Homo sapiens: one gene and its partners. The protein of the gene in region 5 purifies or fractionates together with the protein of the main gene of each other region. This does not show direct contact. Each region holds a gene or a part of one and is shown on either strand. Other genes may lie near its edges.

Region 1 (4,275 bases), on a different chromosome or scaffold from region 5:
CTGCACGGACTTTTTTTTCAAACTAGAAAGGCACAGAACAAAACCCCTCCTTCCCAGGGGCCCTCAGAAGGTGTCCAGATTCTAAGCGACACGGCAGCACACACCTGCACCAGCCCTCGCTTGTACATGGCGCACAGGATGAAGAGCGAGTCTGCCGACCACTCGATGTGCTGGATCTGGTCTAGGCACGTGTACAGCTGAAGGATCTGAAGGGTGTTCACATCCCGGACCACTAACCGGTACTGGACACAGGAAGCCTAAAAAATATGAGAAAGCAAGCACCTGACATTCTCCACTCCAAAAGAGGGGGGCCTTCGGAATGCTACTGCCCTGGCCTTCAGTGACTGTGGCCTTCTCTCCTGCCAGAGGTTTCATGTCTAGATCACCAGTGACATCCCCAGCCCCTAAAGATCAGTTCAGTTCATACAAGGGTAATGTTGAAATATACAAGCCAGGTTTTAATATTGCTATACTCTATTGTAAAGTATAAAAGTATGTTTTAACTCGCTACTTAAAGCTTTAAGACATTTTTAAGTCCCTTCTTATCTGTATGTTAAAAACTAAACTTAAATGGGAAGTAGCATTGGGAGAAAGCTCTTCTGTGAACTAATAACCAAAATCCTCTGCTAGTTTTATAAACACTTTTGGACAATTTCCTCAAATTTATAAAGGGTAAGAATTGAGGCTTCACAGATGACAACGAAAATGGCAAGGAATGCATCAATCTTCTTATGCAGTGCCGAACTCAGAGCCAAAACAACAGAAGATCAAAAGACAGGCTTTCACTTCTGCACACATAAAGATGCTTCGCAAATGCTCATTTATCTCCATTAACCTATTCCTAACACGAAACGGGAAATGTTTAAGTGTTAGTACTATTTTCTTAAAGATAGTTTCTTCTTGTCCATATTTGTTCATTATGTCCCTATCCAAGCAAACAATTTCAAGTAAAAATAACGCCTGAGTACTCACCTGCTGAATGTATATTTTACTACAGTTTCAAGATCAAGAACTGATGTTTAAATATTAACTGCTTCGTTAGTTTTACTTATCAAGGTCAAAGTAGTTTGTGTTTTATGAACCGATATCAAAAAAGAAAGCCACGTTAGTTTTCCGTGGGAGAAAAGAGAGACAGGCGGGTGACGGCAGATTGGAACAAGGAGCTACCACAGCACTTACTTTCTCACACTGTAGCTTTGAAAACTGTGATCAGTTACAGTGAATTCCTTATGAAATGGAATATTTTTACCAACACCTTGAGGAACCACATAAACTCTACTGCAAGATATGAAAACTAGAAACATGGACCTGCTCTCCCCAGTCCTCAGGGCTTTCAAGAAGATGATTCCAGTAACAGATCATTACCAAGTGTTTCAGGGTATTTTGACCAGAGTGTACAAGCTGGAAAAAAACACCCAAGTTAAGCAAGCAGATGTAATCTTTCTCCTTATAATTCACTGAAATTTTCATAAATGGTAAAAACAAAAAACAAACCTCTCATTTAATTGAGGAGGGGGGCACATTGAAAATATACCAAGGCTGAGATGCCATTTAAACTAATGAGGTTTTCTGTTTTGTAGCTGATGCTATTTTATGTGATTTGGAATAAAACCTCCCTGAAGAGGTAAAAAACGTAATTTGAGAGTTAAACTCTCAAAAGCTAGACAGAGCACAGGAATGTCAGGAGTGGCAAAACCTGAAAAAGCATCATGATACATCAGTCAGTTAGTACAGGTGGTGGATAAGGAAAACGAAGCCCACTTTTTACGAGGCATGTTTCTTCTTAGTGGCTTTCCAATGCCAATTGTCCCCCTCTTCTGAGGACATACATACTAGGCATCCGGGTTATCCCTCTCTTCTGAGGATATACACTACTAGGCATCCAGGTACATACACTATATGTTTTGAAGCTTAAAGTTATAGCTCTGTGATTTAAGCACCCTTCTGCCACCCATGGAACGAAGACCTCAAATCCCAGCCATGAGGACAACTACTTCCTTACCTGGGGATAGAATACTAGTATTTAAATCATTTATTCGGCATGTGGTAGAGGAGAAGAGAATTAGAGGAGAAGTAGAGATGACAAAGTAGCCACACCACTTACCAGTTTACAGGCAACAGAATCATCAATTTGCCTTTTGTGACAAAGTAACAACAAAGAGCCGACATCTCCTATACCCTCACCTGTGTGCAGTCGGCACTGCCGATACCCACCTTTCCAAGGGCACCTCCCCAGACCCCCCACCTGTCTACGGTATCTTCCTGGGTCCCGCACCTGCCCGGGCACCTGCCGGGGTCCTGCACCTGTCCGGCCCCCATATCTGCTTGGGGTACCTGCCTGGGCCCCGCACCTGCTTGGGGTACCTGCCTGGGCCCCGCACCTGCTTGGGGCACCTCCCCGGGCCCTCCACCTGTCTAGGGTATCTTCCTGGGTCCCGCACCTGTCTGGGGCACTTGCTCAGACACTGCACCTGCCCCGGGTACCTGCCCGGGCCCCGCACCTGTCCGGGCACCGCACCTGCAGGATCCCCAAGCTGCCTCCACCCACGCGGCCGCCCCCGGCCCTGCCCGCCGGGGACGCTGGCACCGAGGATGTCCTGCCCGTGGCCCAGGTCCCCGCCGCTCACCAGGTACTTGCCGTCCGGGGAGAACTTGCAGAGTAAGCTGGAGAGCTTGAATACCTCGGAGAAGTTCATGGCCGCCGCCTGCCGCGGGCGCCACCCTGCGCCCGAAAACCCGCGGGACCCCTGGGCGCGCAGCAGGCTGCAACAGCCGACGCCGGCCTCCGAGGCCGGAAGTCAGAAGGCGGAAGTGAACTGCAGCCTATCAGCGCCGCCGGCTTCCGCGCGGCATTGTGGGGCTTGTAGTTCTTGTGCCGCAGGGCTTTAAAGGAAACGCCCACGTTTCTTCCGACCAGGGATTTCCGACCCGAGAACCTTACCTCAAAGGCCGGGAGGCCTTTGAGCACCTCCAGCTAGGGCTGCTGATAAAAATGTAGAAAGCACAGTAAAATTTGAATTTCAGATTCACAACAAATCTAGTTATAAGTATGTTCCCAAATATTGCACGGGACATGCTAATACGGAAAAATTACTCGCTAGTCTGAAATTCAAATTTAATTGAGCGACCTGTGTGTCTGCGTGTGTGTACACATGCATATATATATATTTATATTTATATGTAAATGTATGTTTACATGTAAATATATGTTTACCTACAAATATATCTTTAATAAGTAATACGGTGTCTGTCGCACATATATTATATCGTGTATGTAATGTATAAGTATTTATTTCGTTTGCTTGGGGTTTTGTTTGCTTTTGCTGAGTCCGACCCCTCTACCTGCCGCCTGGCCCTTGCCTCACGCTCCAGTGCCACTGAGATCAAGGAGAGAACGAATTTGCCGCTGACTGGGCAGAGCGAGCGCGTGGATCGCGGCCACCGCCCGTTCATCACCCGCGCGCATCTGGGCTGGCACCGGGCGAAGAATCGTGCGGGTCTGGGACCTGGGGGCCCAGAGGGAGCGAGCTCCTGCGCGGGCGCTCGGTCCGCAGGTTTCGCAGGCTCAGGGGCGTGCCTCGTTCTCACCCCCACTCCGGACCCCGGTCCTCTTCCCTAGACAGCGGCCCCCTCCACCCCTGGCTCCCGCAGGCCGCTAGTAGTCCGCGCCAGGCCCCGCCGGCGCCTCTAGGGCCCCCCAGATCGCGCAGACCCTGACATCCCCGCCTGGCCCTGGGTTCTGGGAGCTGAGAGCCGGCCAGGGTCCTGCTCGTACCTCCGGGCGCCCAGCCTCGGGTCTGCTCCCCGCGGACGCCCCAACCTCCCCGGCCGAATGGATGGTGGTGCGCGCGCGTCCTACTCCGGCGGTGCCGGCCTTTTCTGTTGCCAAAACTAGACCCAAACCTCTGCATGGGATTCGTCTTTGGGTCCCCACCCCGTGCGCCCAGCAAACAGTGGGTGAGCCATGAAGATGTGCGAGTCAGCCGGACCCTCCCCGTCAGGCGCGGACCCGCTGCGGCCAGAGAACCCAGTCTGCGCCAGCCCGGCTCGCTCGCGAAGCCACGGGCTTCACTGACGCGACTTTCCAAGACGTGGGGGTCACCATGGGCAGAGGACATCGGTTCGGAGCCAGATCACGGGCCCCATAAGCATCAGACCATAAGCAGCGCCGCCACTGAGAGCCGCTCGGAACTCGCCCAGCATGTCGGGTCCCCTAGCCAGGGCCTGGTGTACGTGGTCGAGGGCCCTGGAAGCCCCGATGGCCTAGGAGGAGCA
Region 2 (3,500 bases), on a different chromosome or scaffold from region 5:
TTAATGAACCAGAATGACTGCTACTCAGCAGGAAGAAATCATTTCATGTTGAATCAGGAGGAGGAAAGTCTCCTGGAGGGATATCTCCAGAAAAAAAAAAAAGAAAAGAAAGAAACTGACTTGTTGCCAGATGTAGTTGGCCATTTTGAAAAGAATTTCACAGTTCTGTTGCATAACTTAGTGATAAGTACAATAAAAACTAAGCCAATTTCAAAAAGGATTCAAATGTTAACTTTAGAAAAAAATGAATTTATACCAAAAGGACACTGTGATAATAATATTAACACTACTATACCTCCATGTGCTTGGCACTATTCTAAATACCACGCTTGTATTGTCTCTAAATCCTCATAACAACCCTATAAGGTAGGCAATTTCATTAGGACTATTTTACTGATGAGGAAAGTAAGGTACAGAGATGTTAAATGACTTGAACAAATACCACAACCCAGATTTGAACCTGGAAGTCTGACTCTAAAATCCAGACTCTAGTGTAGTCAGTTTGCTACATGGCTTACTTGTGAGCAGTATTCTATGATTGTCAACATATGCACACTTAATACTGATCTAACCTGTAATTATGACATAATTATATATTGAAAAAACAGGGGAGGGGAAATATGTTAGGAGTGAGTGGGGTAATAATAACATTTCTAAACCTCATCTTCCCTCTTAGACAGTCAATACATAATGGTTAAAACTGGAAAAATAAAACAATCTATAACAATATAAAGTTATTATTTAAAACACATAAGCAGGCCAGGCGCAGTAGTTCATGCCTGTAATGCCAGCACTTTGGGAGGCCAAGGCGGGCGGATCACGAGGTCAGGAGTTCAAGACCAGCCTGGCCAATATGGTGAAACATTGTCCCTACTAAAAATACAAAAATTAACCGGGTGTGGTGGCAAGTGCCTGTAGTCCCAGCTACTTGGGAGGCTGAGGCAGGAGAATCGCTTGAACCCAGGAGGTGGAGGTTGCAGTGGGCGGAGATCGCACCAGAGATCGCACCACTGCACTCCAGCCTGGGCAACACAGTGAGACTCCGTCTCAAAAAAACAAACAACAACAACAACAAAAAATAAGTAAATATCAGAAGAAACAGCTAAAATAATTTGGAGAGGAGAACTGGATTTGGAGATGAGAAAGGGACTTTTTCAATATTCAACAAGAAAAGGCTTTTTCAATATTACCCTTGAAGTAATATTTGAGTTTTTAAACTATGCATTTGTATTTCTGTGATTTAAAAAATCAATTTAAAGGGAAATTATAAATGTTGGAGAAAGGTAGGGAGGGATGGTATCTAGTACTGAAATGGGCACTTTGATAGTACTGATAGGAACCAGGACTCCCGTGACTACCAGGAAAGGTGTTGCTGGTCTTATAACTACCCACTGGGGTGTGGGATACAGCCTCTCAAGTCGGGTCATACCTTCTGCACCAAACACCTCTCCGCAGTGAGAGCAGAAGAAGTGCTCTGGGTGCCAGGTCTGGTTCATTGCTGTCAGCACTTTCTGGAAAGGGAACACACAGATATTATAATGATGCAGAAGTTGTAAAGCATGACTCTGGTTCTAAGTGAGTGACTGAAAGCTGGAGAGGAGCGGGGATTTACTTACATCCAGGATGGGAGCAGCGCAGTAAGCACAGCGTGGAGAAAAAAGTTGGTGGTAGTCGTTGGGGCAGTAGGCCAAGCCACTCCGCTCAAAGAAGGGACTGGAGCCAATCTCTTCTTTGCAATGAGTACAGACAAAATGCTCAGGATGCCATGATTGCCCTAGAGCATGGATCACCTGTGGAGTGAAATAAAGCCTGACACAGGAGGCCAGTTGAGTGCTCTACAGCCTACAGGTTGCACAACTCTAGGGAGCACTCTTCACATTGTACCCCTTGTAGACAACACGCCCTGGAATTATACAACACTGAGGCCTAGACCTAGGTTCCACCTAAGGCCATCTGTGGTCTGTGCTTTATGGATTGATAATAAAAGGATGCCCACTTCCGGGACTGATCACTGTGATGAAAGCCTGTAAATGTTCACAACCACTGCACTGCCACAGGGGGTGGCAGAAACAACATATAGCACATTGATGACAGAGAAGTTGTAACTGTAGCCTTAGTGTGGAAGGGACCCCTGGAAGAGGAAAAGGCCAAATGACAGTTTTTATTCCTCTAGTTTGAACACTTTATTCCACGCCCCATGCAGTCAGGTCTCAAAGCTTTTTATCATAGCTTCGGTGAAGGACGATGCAGAACAGGAGTTTGCAGCTGTGACTTGGAGCTGAGTTCAGCTGAAAATTGTAATCAATCAATTTAGACTGGGAATGTGTGAACAAAGGGAGCAGTGAGAAAGGTCATCTCAGTAAAGGCAGTACAGAAAAATGGTCAAGAACTCAAACTCAGGAGACAGTCTCCTGGTTTCAGATCTTACCTCTACCTCTTATTATGCCTTGGATATGTCCATTAATGTCTCTGAGTCCTCAGTTTCCTCATCTTTACAAAGGGAGCAATCATTCTTCTTGAAGGGCTGATGTGACCATTAAATGAGGAAATACTTGTAAAGCACTTAGCTCAGTGGCCAGAGCACTGTAAGTGATTAGTAATTATTAATGCTAACTAAAATATCTTAAAATATAAGGGGAAAGAGCAAACCTTGATGAGACAGAGAGAGACAAAGAAGGCTGTAGGACCAAAATTTCAGCCCATCTCACCTTCCCAGCAATCGGTTTCTGGCAGGATGCACAATGGCCCTTGGGCACTGTGGCAATGCCAAGGTCCTGCAATTCCTGCTCCAGACCCCCAAGCATTGAGTCCAGGGAGGCCTTGTGATCCTGCTTGTCTGGTAAGTGCTTCTTGCCAGCATCTGCTCTCACTGCAACCTGGCCCAAGGGAAGAACCAAGAACAGAATCAGCCTCATTTTTATTCTCATTGGCATCTTCTAATGACTCTATAAATTCACCTCTACTGACTGATCTCTTGGCCTTTCCCCAACCTTCCTGCAAGACATTGGAAAAATCTAAAATTTCAACACCAATAAAAATCTTTTCATCTCCCTTTCATCCTAAACTCCTCAGGCCAAATGAAATCTGACTAATTTTATATTTGTAAATCTTTTCTTAATGTAGGAAATTTAGTACATGAAGATGATACCCTTTGAAGATCTTAGGATGACCCCAGTTCAAAAATTAGTCACATCTCCCTTTTACTCATTTATTTGGCAATAATTGTTGAATACCTGGTTTGTGCCAATCACTGCTCTAAGCACTTGGATTAAAGCAAAGATAAGACAGACCAAGTGTCTGGCCTCATGGAATTGCATTCTGTGGGCGATAGACAATAAATAATTAAATAAATAAATATATGTTGTAATGTCAGACAGAGATAAGTTATAGAAAGAGATAGAAGGGACACAGCAAGATGGTAAGAAGAATTGATTTAGATGGAGGTAATAATCAAAGAAGGCCCCTCTAAGGAAGTAATATTTGAGTAGATACTTGGGACT
Region 3 (3,500 bases), on a different chromosome or scaffold from region 5:
CTTCAGGCCAAGGAGAGTCATTACATAAAACCAAGATGCTAGAGGCTTCTTTCTTTGAACCTATCCCAACTCTCTTTCAGCTGCTCCTATGGTATACCCATCTAGGAACTAGAAATAGACCACACTGTTGGGCAAGTGGCTCATACACAGGAATCCTTGCTCCTGACCTTCAGAAACCACCCCTCCATCTCTGATTAAAAACAGTCTTCTGTGTTTCATTTTGAAAGGGAAAAGAAACAAGGAAATCATGCTTTTCTTAGGGTATTCCTAAATTCATATTTAGGCTTTAACAATAAAATTTCTAAAGCTTAACCTAAGGATAATGACTTAAAAAAATTTCCCCTCTAATGGTAAATATAGGTCCATTTTAATCTTATTTCATAAACTGCATTTAAAAAAAGGCACATGTCATTATAATACAGGCACAAACCATCTATTCCAAGAATTCTAATTCTAGTTATCATCCAATTATTTGATATTTTATTCCATTTGAAATGATCTATAGATTACAAATCTATAATGACCTCATAGATTTGTAACCTATAAGTAGCTAAACTTTTGTAGAAAATGATTGCGTCCCTTAAAATCAGCATACCCATCAAACGCATTCTGTACTAAACATTTTATTATATAATATATTGGAAGTTTAAAAAATATTTTGTGATTGACTTAGTAAGTGCATTCAAATTTAGAGTCTTGATTTCAGGAGAAAAAAGGCCAAAAAGAGTCATTAGATAAAGCCAAGAAGCAAGAGGTTTCATTTGTTTCTGATCCACTCCACCCCCTTTGAGTTCTTTCTATGTTATACTCAAATAGAAGCAAGAAGTAGATTGTCTTGTCACGTCACATCCTGTATTACGGAGGTAACCAAACTTGATGAAACCTGCCTTGATTACTATTGCTCCCAAAGAATAATATTAATGAAATTTCCTGAATTCTATCCATGATCGTGTTTCTCTTTATATAAATAAAAAATGAATTTGTGTTAGTTGGCATTTCCAGTTTTCTTGGACCCATTGTTTTTGCAGAATAGCAGATTTTGATTCTAAAGAAACTCTTGCCTATATTTCTGAATGTTCCTGCCAGAAACTGAGGTTTTAACATTTCCCCTACCCTACAAGCGCTTTTTAAAAATAGAATTCCTCCTTCAACGCACACATTAACATCTGTTATAATAAATTAACATTCCCATTGTAACTGATTAAGTTGAGACATTCATATGCCTATGTAAATAGAAGGAGGTGATGGGAATGGGTGGCAGGAAGAGGGGATTGATGGGAAAGTCATTTAACAATTTAATAGGTTGATTAGTACCAGTATATCACTTCATACACACAGTAACTATTGCCTGTATATAATTATAAAAAGAAAAATTTGATGGGTACAAAAATAGTTAGAATGAATTAATAAGGCCTAGTATTTGATAGCACAGCAGGGTGACTATAGTCAATAATAATTTAATTGTATGTTTTACAATAAGTATGAGTATATATAATTGGATTATTCGTAACACAGAGGATAAATGCCTGAAAGGATGGATACTCCATCTTCTATGATGTGATTATTATACATTGCATACCTGCATCAAAACATCTCATGTACCCCATAAAAATATACACGTACTATGTACCCACAAAAATTAAAAATTAAAAAAAAAACAGTGGCAACATTTGCAAGACAGTTTAGATCACTTTAATGCATTAGGCCTTTTAAAATCTTTCCATGGGGTACTTGGACCAAAGGAAACCTAAGCCCATTGTTCATCAAAAAAAGACTGTGTGTGTGTGTGTGTGTGTGTGTGTGTGCACGCACTAGCACACGTGCTCACCTGGTTTAGTGCTGAAATATAATTCCTTCAAAATGCTGCTTTCCTTTGACACTGGTTACAATGGGAAACTAGGGGAGGCTTAGAGTAGCTGTCACTTAAGTGTAAAAGGAGTCAGTTATTTCTGGCATCTTTCAAAATTGTGTCATATAAGAAATCAATCTTCTATTGAGGCTTCCTATATTGAAGAAGATTATGACAGCTCCAATATCTTTCACTTCAGTTAAATATTAATAAGTTAAGGTTTCAAATAATGAAATAACTTATAGAAAACATGTTAGATGTTTTTCAAATACATGCACAATAAAACTACTAAAATTTATTAAATGCCTCTATACCCCCCAAAGGATTTGGGGGTTTCTTGATCACTCACCAGCGTTCTATGTTTCTAGAGTCCATCTCCCCTGTATGACAGCCATCACTGTTTAAATGATTTTCTTTAGGCTGATCTCTTTCCTAATCTTAAAGAACAAATAAATTCCACATCCTCTTCTGGGACCGATTCTGGATTCCTATGGAATTATCTCAGAAAATAAGAACTCCTGATATATGTGAGATAACCAACCTAAGTATAATTCTTAAATTGGAGAGATTCTTTAATGTAAACACTAGGCCACCAAACTACTGAAGTTAATTCTCTAGATTAGGGGCCAGCAAACTTTTGTAAAGGGCCAGAAAGAGTCTATTTCCAGCTTTGTGGGCCATTAAATCTCTGTCACAAGTAATCAACTCTGCTGTTGTAGTGTAAAAGCAACCCTACATAATCCATAAACAAATGAGTGAGGCTGTGCTCCAATAAAGCTTTATTTGTGAACATGAAATTTGAATTTTATAGAATTTTCATAAGTTACAAAATAGTCTTGATTCTTTTTCAATGTGTAAAAAATGTAAAATCATTCATATTTTTATCTTTTGGGCCCTACAAAACAGGAAGTAGACTGGATTTGGCCTATGGACTGAGGTTTGCTGCCACCTGCTCTAGATTTTTCCAGTTGCCTCTTTACCATTTCCAACTCTTATAGACTACGATTGAAGCACTGCTTTGTGGCTCCAACTCTTTGCCTTGCATCATCCCTTACTCCCTCTTCCCATCAGAGTTGTTGGTACTAACCTATATCTGAGTGTCGTGTAAATATGGAAAATGGAAATAAGAGCATGTGTATCTACTTTTTAATTAGATGTATTTTATTTTAAAATAAAATACTATTGATTTTACTGATAACAATAGCAACTCTGCATGGAGAATTGCATGACAATAAAAGTTGACAATAAAAATTAAATGCCTGGAACAGCTAAAGGAGATGCATTTTTAGCTGGAAAAAAGCTTAAGAATGATGGACTATTATATAGTAATTTTGTTATTGGTGGTTAATAGCTATCTTGAACTGAGGGCCTCCTGTGTGAGAAAGTACAAATGGATTCTTATAACCACTATTAGGGGAAAATGCAATTAAGTCACTGACAGAGGAATTATCTTTCTACATAGGAAAATATTAATAATAATAAAAAGTGAATAAGTATTCAAATTCTAACTCCACTATAAAAAGAATAAGAAGAAACTAATGGAAATCACATTGGAACAGTTTGAATTAAACATAAGAAAGGACAGTTACAATCCAAAAATTTCAAAGTTTAAGTCAGAGTCCCGCATTAAGAAAAGTGTAAAACTATAGTG
Region 4 (3,500 bases), on a different chromosome or scaffold from region 5:
GGCCTCTGAAGAGACTGGGACTACAAGTGTGTGTCACAACACCAGGGTTGGGCGGTTTTAATAAGGGGAGAGGAGAAAGAGACTGAGCACATTCCCCAGCCCTTCAGGAGGCAGGGGGTTTCCGGAGGGTCCCGGGACCCGCCTCAACTTCCACCCAAAGTGGGAAGGGAGAAATGGCCCCGTCCTTAACCGAGGGACCAGCCCACATCCTTGCCGCCAGTCATGATGGGGTGGGTGCCGCCCCATTGAACTTCACGGATGCCCTACCCTCTTCCCCACCCTGCCCTTCTCACTCCAGGTTTGGCTCCTTGAAGCCAGGTTTCCACCGCACACCCGAGGCCCCGCCCCTCTTCCCCAGCTGGCCCCGCCCCTCGAAGCCCTGCCCTCATCTCTGCCGGCCCCACCTCCGCGCCCCGGCCAGGCTCACCTTGGTCTCCGCCAGTTGTCGCTTGAGCAGCTGCAGCGCTTCGGTGTGTTCCCGCTCGCTGTCTTGAAGGGCCTGAAGTTGGTCCTTCAGCTCCCTCTGAAACACACACAGGGCCGGGATGGGGGCAGGGGCCATGCCTGGCCCAGGCATTCAGCCCTGACCACTGCCAGGCGCTGGGGGTTAGCCTGGTCTCTGTCCCCAACCTCCAACACTTGCCTCCCGTCACAGTTCAACCACCAGCAAGTCCTGTAGAGTCTGTCTCCTAAACACCTCCAGAACCCGTCCGTATCTTTCACCTGCATCTTTGCAACAACCTCCTCCTCTTTGGCCACCCTAGAGGCTTCTGTGACAATCGACTTCCACATACACACTCTCTGGCTCCCCACACTTGGCCCTGGATCCCCGCTTAGAATTAAGGCAGGGGTCTCCAACCCCCAGGCCACAGGTGGGTATTGGTCCATAGCTTGTTAGGAACCTGGACGCACAGCAGGAGATGAACAGTGGTGGGGAGGGGCAAACCATCTGTATTTGCAGCCGCTCCTCATCGCTGGCATTACCACCTGACTCCACCTCCTGTTGGATCAGTGGTGGCATTAGATTCTCACAGGAGTGTGAACTGCACATGGGAGGGATCTAGGTTGCCTGCTCCTTATGAGAATCTAATGCCTGATGATCACTCACTGTCTTCCATCACCCCCAGATGGGACTGTCTAGCTGCGGAAAAACAAGCTCAGGGCTCCCACTGATCCTACATCATGTTGAGTTGTGTAATTATTCCATTATATATTACAATGAAATAATAATAGAAATAAAGTGCACAATAAATGTAATGTGCTTGAATCATCCTGAAACCATCACCCCACCCCCACCCCCTGCGGTTTGTGGAAAAATTGTCTTCCATGAAGCTGGTCCCTGGTGCTAAAAAGGTTGGGGACCACTGCTCTAAGGAACCAAAGCTGTACCAGTCCAATGCTACAGACTAGCTGCCAACATTCTCCGAGGGCTACAGTGGGCTGGGCACAGTTCTTAGCTCTTTGCTTATATTAAATCATTTGGGCCTCTCAGTAACCCTAAGGGAGGCACAATTATTATCTCCATCTTCTGATGGAGAAAAAGATACAGAGAGGTCAAGAAACTGGCCCCATAGCATACAGATAAACATATAATGGTAAAGAAGGAATTGGAACCCGGACAGCCTGGTTGTGGAGACCATGATCTTGATGCCAGGTGACACGTTTTCTACCATGATGACTCCTGCGATGAATAACAACAAATCCACAACACACAAGATATCAAAATTTTAAATAAAAACACAATCAGCCTCACTGATTTTTCCTTTGTCTCAGGTTCCAGTGTGGCTCAGCAGAGCATTGTTAGTGATCCTGGCCTTGTTTGAAATGTTGAATTTTGTTCATCGTGGGTTTTTTGCATTAATTTTGATTTAAGAAATATTGCATTAAATACTATTCATCTTGATTGCTGAGTTTGGGGCACCCTCTGATCCCACCTCTGTCTCCAACACCCTCCCCCATCACTCCCATCCAGCCAGTGGCCTTCTTCCTGTGCCTCCACCATCTTGAGCTCGTTCCAATCTTCAGACTATGCCCTGGCTATTCCCTCTGGCTGGTGGCCTCCACTCTCAGAGTTTCTCACGGTGACTCCTTTGTACCATTAATTTAACTCAGATGCCACCTCCTTGAAGAGTCTTGCCTGACCGCCCCACGCACAGTGGCACCTCCTCATACCCTGTCACACATCTGGATTCACGGTCTTCCTTGCGCCTTCTGCTGTCTGAATATATTTGACTGTGTGTTTATTGCTTATCTCCTCACTAGAATGTGAGTTTCATGAGAGTAGTAGGAATCTTGTCTGGCTTGTTCCCTGCCTTATGCCCAGGGACTCAGTGATTATTTGTCAAGTGATAAATGGGTTGTGGAGGTGAGTGCTCCCTAGCACAGGGTCCAGCTGTCTGCAGGCATTGGGAATCTAGCCCATTGTATTATCGCCAGTTGTTCTCCTGTCTGTCTCTTCTTCGTCCCCGTATTGGCCCACAAGTCCTCCAGGGTGGCTCCTACTGCTCCCTCTCCATATACCTCACACCCAGCAACAGCCTGGCACTGAGATGGGACTCAATGACGCTTGCTGCGTGAATGAAGTTCCTGGAAATGGCCTCTGAGTTCCCCAAGTCAGTCTGGGCTGTGAGCAGTGCCAGGAAGGCTGACTTACCTGTTCACATCCACCTCCCTCCCACTCATTCAGCTTGTCAGACCAGGGAGGGCCTTGGTAAATGTCTAGTTCAATTAATTTTACAGACTAGGCAGCAACATGGGAAAATATTCATGATGACATGCTGATGGAAGAATGCAGGAAACAAAATTATCTTTGATTACTATCAATTATTCATTTAAAAAACATTTCTTGGGCAACTATTATGTACCAGGCACTGTTGAGGCACTGGGATTATGGCGAAGGACAAGACAGACACAGTCCCTGATCATAGGGACTAGTCTGGTGGGGAAGACAGACAACAAACAAGGAAAATAATAAAGGAGCGAGGTTACCAATATGGTGTGTCCTGCAGAGAAAATAAAGCAGTGTGAGATGGAGGGGACTTTAGGTAGGGTGGCCAGGGAAGGCTTCTCTGAGGAGGTGACAGCAGAAGGATGAGGAGGAGCCAGCCATGAAAATGGGGGTAAGATAGAAAAATACAAGCTGCTTGTTTTGAGAGCCCATGCTGATGCAATTGTTGGAACTCTGGCAGCCATCTCAGGCCATGAGGCAACTGTAAAGACCAAAGTCACAAGCTGAAACCAGAAGAGTAGAAGGAAGAAGGAGCCCGAGTCCCTGATGACTGTGGGGCTGCCACACCATCGGTTTACTCAGTGACATGCTAGGAAGCTGGCTGTCTGAGAAAAACTTTTTTTTTTAAATCCCCAACAGTGCCAATTTCCATGGTGTAAATGTTCCCACTCAAGTGGATTTCAAGCCATCAGTGTGAAGTAGTAGTTGGACTTGGCATTGGGATGAGATGCACACAATCAGCTCTCAGGAGCCAGTGCAACCTGCCGCAGCA
Region 5 (2,602 bases):
GTCTCTGATTTCATATTCATACAGAGGGATGCAGTAAAAAATCCCTTTCTCTCCATTCTTAAAATCAGTGGCTTTCACAATACATCAGGTATTTGGCTTAATCTCTGCATTTCAGATAGAATACCAGTCATCTTAGAGGCTGAAATAGGGATCACCATGTCCTACTGAATGCTCTCAAAAGACACCTGCAGCGTGCTGAGATCCAGCAGAATCTCATCACCATTCAAGCAGACTGAGACCCACTCGCCTCATATAGAAGGTCCCTGACCTCCCGGAAGGTTGAATGGTGGGGCGCCTGTGACAGTAGGAGTGGGCTGGCTATGCCCGTGTGTCTACCTGTGCTCTGATAAGAGGCAGGGACAGAGCAAGGCTGAAGAGAGCCTTGATCAGCTCCTCAATTCCAGTGTCCTTGAACCATAGTCCATCTGTTTGCACCCTAGGTTGGTGTCCTTGTCAGTAAGGCCGAGGGAAAATTCCTCTTGCCTGTGTGACCCAAACTCTACATGTCTGACTCAACTCAGAAAAAGCTGGGGAGAAGCCCAGGGGTCTGGTAACTTCACCTGGGAGCTGCTGCTGAGGGCACATATGTATCCCGGAGGAGCTGTGAGTTTCTCCCCCAACTGAGTAGAGGAAACAGAGGGGAACAAGGAGGGGGTGCTTTGTAAGGCAGGTGTAATCTGGATTAAAAGAAATTGTACTCCAAATATTGGATTTCTGAGACCTATATTGGAAGAGTCAATTTAGATGGCTAGAAAAGGAAAAAAAAAAAAAATCTAAAACAGCTTTCAAAAATACTAAGAAGTGGCACTACCCTCATTTTACAAGATACCATCGATCTTATTTTGAGGTGAAAAAGAGCCACAAATGGGTCCTTTCTGAGACACAGCTATGAAAGAAAGAAAAAATAATGTATCCGAGGAATTTCCTGTCTGCCCAGGCTGGGCACACACTGATTGCAACTGAGACTGCCCTCTGGGATCCTCCGTCTCCAAAGCTCTGTGTCCAGTGGAGACCAGGAAACTTTAAAAAAGGTTAGGAATTGAAAAAAAAAAAAAAAAAAAAAAATCAGGTGAGGGCATGAAACTGACCACAAGATGGCCTTTGGAATGGAGCAGAGAGGAGCTTTTCTTTCTCACTAGCCTCTGTTACCTGCTTTGGAAAAATAAATCCCCACTGCAGAATATTTTTGCCCAGTTTCTGGACTGCTGGGCCTGTGTGGTCTTTTCATATTTTCCACTTTGCAGCGCTGCGCTCCCAAGCTAATCCCAAGCTGCCGAGGCCTTCCAAATAACTTGGACAGCCTTCCATCCTTATCTTACGCCTTAGACACATGGTTCTCACAGCCATCTCAGGGGCGGCTCTCTGGACTAGCATGTATCTGTCTGCAGCACAGCAGCATCTGTGATGATTTTGGCCTCCCTCAGATGGGTGGCCCAATGCTGGGATGCGGGTTTGATTCTGTGCTGCTGGCCACAAAGCACCCGGGTCACTGATTCTGTTTAGGTGCCAACAATCCCCAAGACTCTCCAAGAGGCTGAACTCTGTCAGAAGGCATCTGAATCTCAACTGCAGGCAGGGCGGGAGGACAGAGGGGACCAAGGGAAGAACAGAGCAAGAGAGAGAAAAAGAGAGCTCTCCTTTTCATTTTATCTTTTTTAAAAGCATTTTTTTTTTTCAGCCAAGACCCAACAGTAACAGGAACAGACCTGATCCACGTGGCAGGAAAAAGAGGAACCTGAACCCCTCTGCAAGTATTCTCTTTCCTGACCAGCTGGGCTTGCCGCACTTTGTGAGATTTGCAAAAAATATATATATAATAGATATATATTTCCATAGGAAAACAACATCAGATGTCTTCCCCTAGATGAACGATGAAGAGTCAAACTGCAGGTTCTTAAAACAAAAACAAAAACAAAAACACCATGATACTAACAACGGTGGAAGGGTGAGGGTGAGGAATTACAGATGGAGAGATTCCAAATCAGAAGGAAACGTGACATGGAGTCCCAGGCTCATGCCCTCCGCCAGAATTCCAGCCCCGCCTGTGCTGGGTAGTTTGTCTAAGGTGCTCCAGGGTCCCTCTTGGTCTGCAAGAGAAGTGTCCCTGCCATTTCTGGGTCGCTTCCTTTTCCACTCTCCTCAGCCCGCCTGCTCCGTCACACTTCCAGCAATCCTGGTGGGCAGGGGTTCCCTGGGCTGCTGGCCCGCTGAGGTGGACTGTTGGTTCCTTCAGCATTCATCTTCTTGGTATATTTGTTCATCCAGCTCCTGGGACTCTAGGTGCTCCAGACGGTCTGTTCGGCCACTCATGATTTCATCTGGGGTTTTCATAAACCTTTGGAAGAAGAAGTGGAGGAGGTAAGAGATTCCATTTTCCTAAAGCTGTCTTCACTCTGAACTCTAGCCTGTATATAAAGAAAGACTCCATCATCTTATACAGCTGGAGAGCTACTGAACCCCGAGATTAATGTTAACTTAGTGCAAATTAGGAAAAGGTACTCCTTTCTCTGACTGTCTAAAAAGTGGTAAAATGCTTATTTAAAAAGACTAGGGCCAGGCATGGTAGCTCATGCATATAATCCTAGTGCTTTGGGAGGCCAAG
Region 6 (3,500 bases), on a different chromosome or scaffold from region 5:
ATAGCTGGTGCCAGGCAAGGTACTCTGTGAGTTCTTGGGAGGGACAGAGAAAGAGGATGTATCTGTGTGTAAGCAAGGGAGACCGGAAGAGTTGTTTGTGGGAGGGGCTGGCATATGGGCTGGGCCTTCATAGATTGTTGACAAGCCTGATGAGGAGAGACGACAGAGCAGGGCCACAAATGACTGCCCATGGGGCCTGGGACTGGGGGAAGGGGATGCCCCAGGCTGGGGCTGTTCCCCTGGGCCCAAGTTAGGTGGGAACAAAGACCCTGTGTTGCCAGGTCTTCCAATTCTTCAGAGAAGCAGAAAATCCCCCCATCCACTCATTCACCACGGACACGTGCCCTGCCCTGGGGATACAGCACACGGCGAGACACTGCAGTCCTCGCCTTCTCAGCCTGTTAGGTACAACCTCCCAATTCAAAGTGTTGGCGACTAGTTCAGAATTTTAAAAACCACTCCGCGAGCCAAGGAAAATATTTCAGCAGGCCAAGTGGGCTCAGCAGGCCACCCATTGGCAGACTGGGTGTGTATGGGGGTGGGGAGGGCAAGAAGAGAGGGAGGCTAGGCACCTGGGCTGAAGAGGTACCCGGGTAGAGGGGGAAGGGTCTGAGCTCAGTGATTTTGGAAGTGAGTTCTGGCCACAGTTGGTTTCAGGGCTTGGTGAGTTTTTCATTTACTCATTCAGCAGTTTCTGGCACTTTTGTTAGTTACTGGCTCCATGCTGGATGCCAGAGCCACAGTGAGAAGTCAGACTAGGCCCTGTTCTGGCTGGGACGGACAGAGATGTCATTTACTGTCCAAGGCCTTGTGATCGAAGTGTGTGCCAGGTACCGTGAGGACCCACCCAGAACAGTGGAGACTGGGGTTGGGGGTAGGGGTTCCTGGAGTCTGAAAAGAAGAGGAAGGGTGCACCAATAGGGGGTTGCACTGAGGGGGGTGGCAGCTAGGGGGATGGCACTGAGTGGGTATGGCACTGAGGGGGGTACACCTGGAGGGGGTGCACTGAGGGGGATGGCATGGAGGGGGGGTGCACTGAGGGGGGTGGCACAGAGGGGGTGGTGCACTGAGGGGGGTGCACCTGGAGGGGTTGCACTGAGGGGGGTGGAATGGAGGGGGGTGCACTGAGGGGGTGGCACGGAGGGGGTGGTGCATTAAGGGGGGTGGCATGGAGGGGGGGTGCACTGAGGGGGGCGGCATGGAGGGGGGGTGCACAGAGTTGGGGGATGCACCCAGGCAGGTTGCACGGGGGGGTGCACCTGGGGGAGTGCACTGAGGGGGGCTGGCACCAAGAGGGAGGTTCACTCAGGAGGGTGCACCGAGGGGGGTGGCAGTGCAGGCAGAGGGAACAGCAAGAGCCACAGTGGGAGAGGTGAGGCAGCCTGAGGAGCAGGAGGTGGGGGCCAGGGGCCAGGGTGCAGGGACAGGGAGCGCCTTGCCCATGTCATGGTGCTCTGGGCCCTGGCCTGTGCTTGGCCTTGTGCTGAGAGGCCCTTTCTCAGCTCTCTCTCAGTGGTTTTCAAAGTGGGACTGGCTGAAGTGGGGCGGGATTAAAGAGGTTTGGCCTGGTGGCCCCAGGATCCTCCCCATAGTAATTGAACAGTCTTGGGCTGTGACGCATGGCAGTGCCCAGTGCCTGGCACTGCACCTGTGTGGAGTAGAGCTGGGCACAGCAAAGTGTAGATTGAGGTCTATCCCTGTGGCTGACCTGGGCCAAGCGTGTCCCCACATTCTGCAGAGACAAAGGAAATCACCTGCCTCAGCTCCCTAGCACCGACTGCACCCAGGCTCTGTGGTGGGGTATAGGGGCTCTGCCTTGTTCCCCAGACACAACCAGAGTTCCCCCATCGTACCCGCTGTGACAACCCGCTGGTGCCAACCTTGGGAACCAGGAGGAAAGAGATTCACCCTGACCCCAGGGATCCCTGTGTGTATCCCGTTCCCAACCTGCTGGCCACTGGCCACCACAGACCCGCAGCAGTTTTTACCCATCTGTGGGCCTCAGCTTCCTCACCCTCACAACCAAGGCCTGGAAGATGAAACGGTGACTTTCTCTTAGAAGCCTTCCCAGACACTCCTTCCTTTCATTGCCTTCCAGAGTTATGAAGTGCCAGGAGCTGGCTCCCCCACCAACCTAGGGACTCCTGGGAAGGTGGGGCTTGGGGTAGGGAGACGCAGCAACAGCAGACTGGCACAAAGCAGTTGATAGTGTTTGCTGTATGACTGAAAAAGCCCCTGGCCCCTGAGTCCAGGCCGGCATCTTGCTGGGTCCGGGTGACCTGGGAAGCACGACTGGGAGCGCAGGCGGCATCCCGTCTTCTGGGTGTGAGTGCAGGACAGACCCAGGACATCCTTCCCCGAGTCTGCGCTCTCCGCACAGGTTGCAGGGCAGCACAGGGTGGGCAGCAGGGCTGGACAGGGGCGCCTGGGTCCCTCTGACGGCATACTCTTCCTCTGCGCAGAGTTCATCCCGAAGACACGGAGCACCCCGCGGCCTACAGCGCGGGCGCCCACGCGGGCGCCCCGCCGAGGGCGCCCCACGGCCGCTCCCCCCGCGCCAACCCCGCGGCCAGCGCGGCCCACCCAGCAGCCAGGGAGCCGGAGGGGCGGCGGGCGGCGGCGGGGGCGGCTGAACTCGGCGAGCCGGGCGTTCCGGGATGGCGAGGTGCGCCTGGTGCGGCCCGCGGGCCTGAGCTCTGGCAGCGGGCGCGTGGAGGTGTTCGTGGGCGGACGCTGGGGCACCGTGTGCGACGACTCCTGGAACATCAGCGGCGCCGCCGTCGTGTGTCGCCAGCTGGGGTTTGCCTACGCCGTGCGCGCCGTCAAGAGAGCCGAGTTCGGCCAGGGCGGCTCGCTGCCCATTCTGCTGGACGATGTGCGCTGCGCGGGCTGGGAGCGGAACCTGCTGGAGTGCCAGCACAACGGCGTGGGCACCCACAACTGCGAGCACGACGAGGATGCGGGCGTCGTGTGCAGCCACCAGAACCCCGACCTGTAGGCAACACGCCGCTGCCCCAGGCCATCCCGCCGGCGGGGGAGCCTGGCAGGGGCCGCTCCGCCCTGTGTGCGCCCAGCGGGTGCACACGTGTTCTAGAGTGAAGGGGGTGCGGGTGTGTGCTGTCCTGGGGACATGTGTGAGGCGCTGCAGTGCATGTGTGTCCTCTGCAGACCCAAGGCAGGAGTGTGTGTTGGGGGCGGTGTGGGCTCTGGAAGTGCATGGTCCATCATGGGCGGGAGGAGTTCCTTTCTTACCTCCAAGCGTTTCAGACACCAGCAGGAACAGCAGCCGGGCTGTGGGACCCTGAGGAGGGAGGGCAGCCAGGCTTCGAGGACGGACATGGCCCCTGGCTGTGCTAACAGAGGCACAGCTTGCAGACTGAGGGCGGTGGGGAGAACCAGGCTTGTCCTGCCCACAGCTGGAATGGAAGGTGCAAGAACAGCCGGAGGGTGGCCTGAGGAATGTGGCCCGGACAGCATGGCCTGGTGCCCGCATCCCCCCC

What was found.
Region 1: the proteins of ETV6 (region 5) and WRAP73 purify together in Homo sapiens (co-immunoprecipitation; one large-scale study listed by IntAct). This does not show direct contact.
Region 2: the proteins of ETV6 (region 5) and LPXN purify together in Homo sapiens (co-immunoprecipitation; one large-scale study listed by IntAct). This does not show direct contact.
Region 3: the proteins of ETV6 (region 5) and KLHL13 purify together in Homo sapiens (affinity purification with mass spectrometry; one large-scale study listed by BioGRID and IntAct). This does not show direct contact.
Region 4: the proteins of ETV6 (region 5) and TRIM62 purify together in Homo sapiens (co-immunoprecipitation; one large-scale study listed by IntAct). This does not show direct contact.
Region 6: the proteins of ETV6 (region 5) and HHIPL1 purify together in Homo sapiens (co-immunoprecipitation; one large-scale study listed by IntAct). This does not show direct contact.

What each region holds. Positions count from the first base shown.
Region 1 is NC_000001.11:3,647,304-3,651,578, forward strand, and holds the start of WRAP73 (WD repeat-containing protein WRAP73), read right to left. Parts: upstream 2,801-4,275; 5' UTR 2,697-2,800; coding exon 2,628-2,696; intron 258-2,627; coding exon 105-257; intron 1-104.
Region 2 is NC_000011.10:58,548,357-58,551,856, forward strand, and holds part of LPXN (leupaxin), read right to left. Parts: intron 2,877-3,500; coding exon 2,709-2,876; intron 2,525-2,708; coding exon of another isoform or gene 2,441-2,524; exon of another isoform or gene 1,797-2,440; intron 1,791-1,796; coding exon 1,617-1,790; intron 1,512-1,616; coding exon 1,430-1,511; intron 1-1,429. UniProt on the Homo sapiens protein: Transcriptional coactivator for androgen receptor (AR) and serum response factor (SRF). Contributes to the regulation of cell adhesion, spreading and cell migration and acts as a negative regulator in integrin-mediated cell adhesion events.
Region 3 is NC_000023.11:117,903,811-117,907,310, reverse strand, and holds part of KLHL13 (kelch-like protein 13), read left to right. Parts: intron 1-3,500. UniProt on the Homo sapiens protein: Substrate-specific adapter of a BCR (BTB-CUL3-RBX1) E3 ubiquitin-protein ligase complex required for mitotic progression and cytokinesis.
Region 4 is NC_000001.11:33,165,044-33,168,543, forward strand, and holds part of TRIM62 (E3 ubiquitin-protein ligase TRIM62), read right to left. Parts: intron 1,753-3,500; exon of another isoform or gene 524-1,752; coding exon 428-523; exon of another isoform or gene 1-427. UniProt on the Homo sapiens protein: E3 ubiquitin ligase that plays a role in antifungal immunity by mediating 'Lys-27'-linked ubiquitination of CARD9 downstream of C-type lectin receptors; leading to CARD9 activation, followed by activation of NF-kappa-B and MAP kinase p38 pathways.
Region 5 is NC_000012.12:11,890,674-11,893,275, reverse strand, and holds part of ETV6 (transcription factor ETV6), read right to left. Parts: intron 2,336-2,602; coding exon 2,230-2,335; 3' UTR 1-2,229. UniProt on the Homo sapiens protein: Transcriptional repressor; binds to the DNA sequence 5'-CCGGAAGT-3'. Plays a role in hematopoiesis and malignant transformation.
Region 6 is NC_000014.9:99,672,629-99,676,128, forward strand, and holds part of HHIPL1 (HHIP-like protein 1 isoform a precursor), read left to right. Parts: intron 1-2,462; coding exon 2,463-2,998; 3' UTR 2,999-3,500.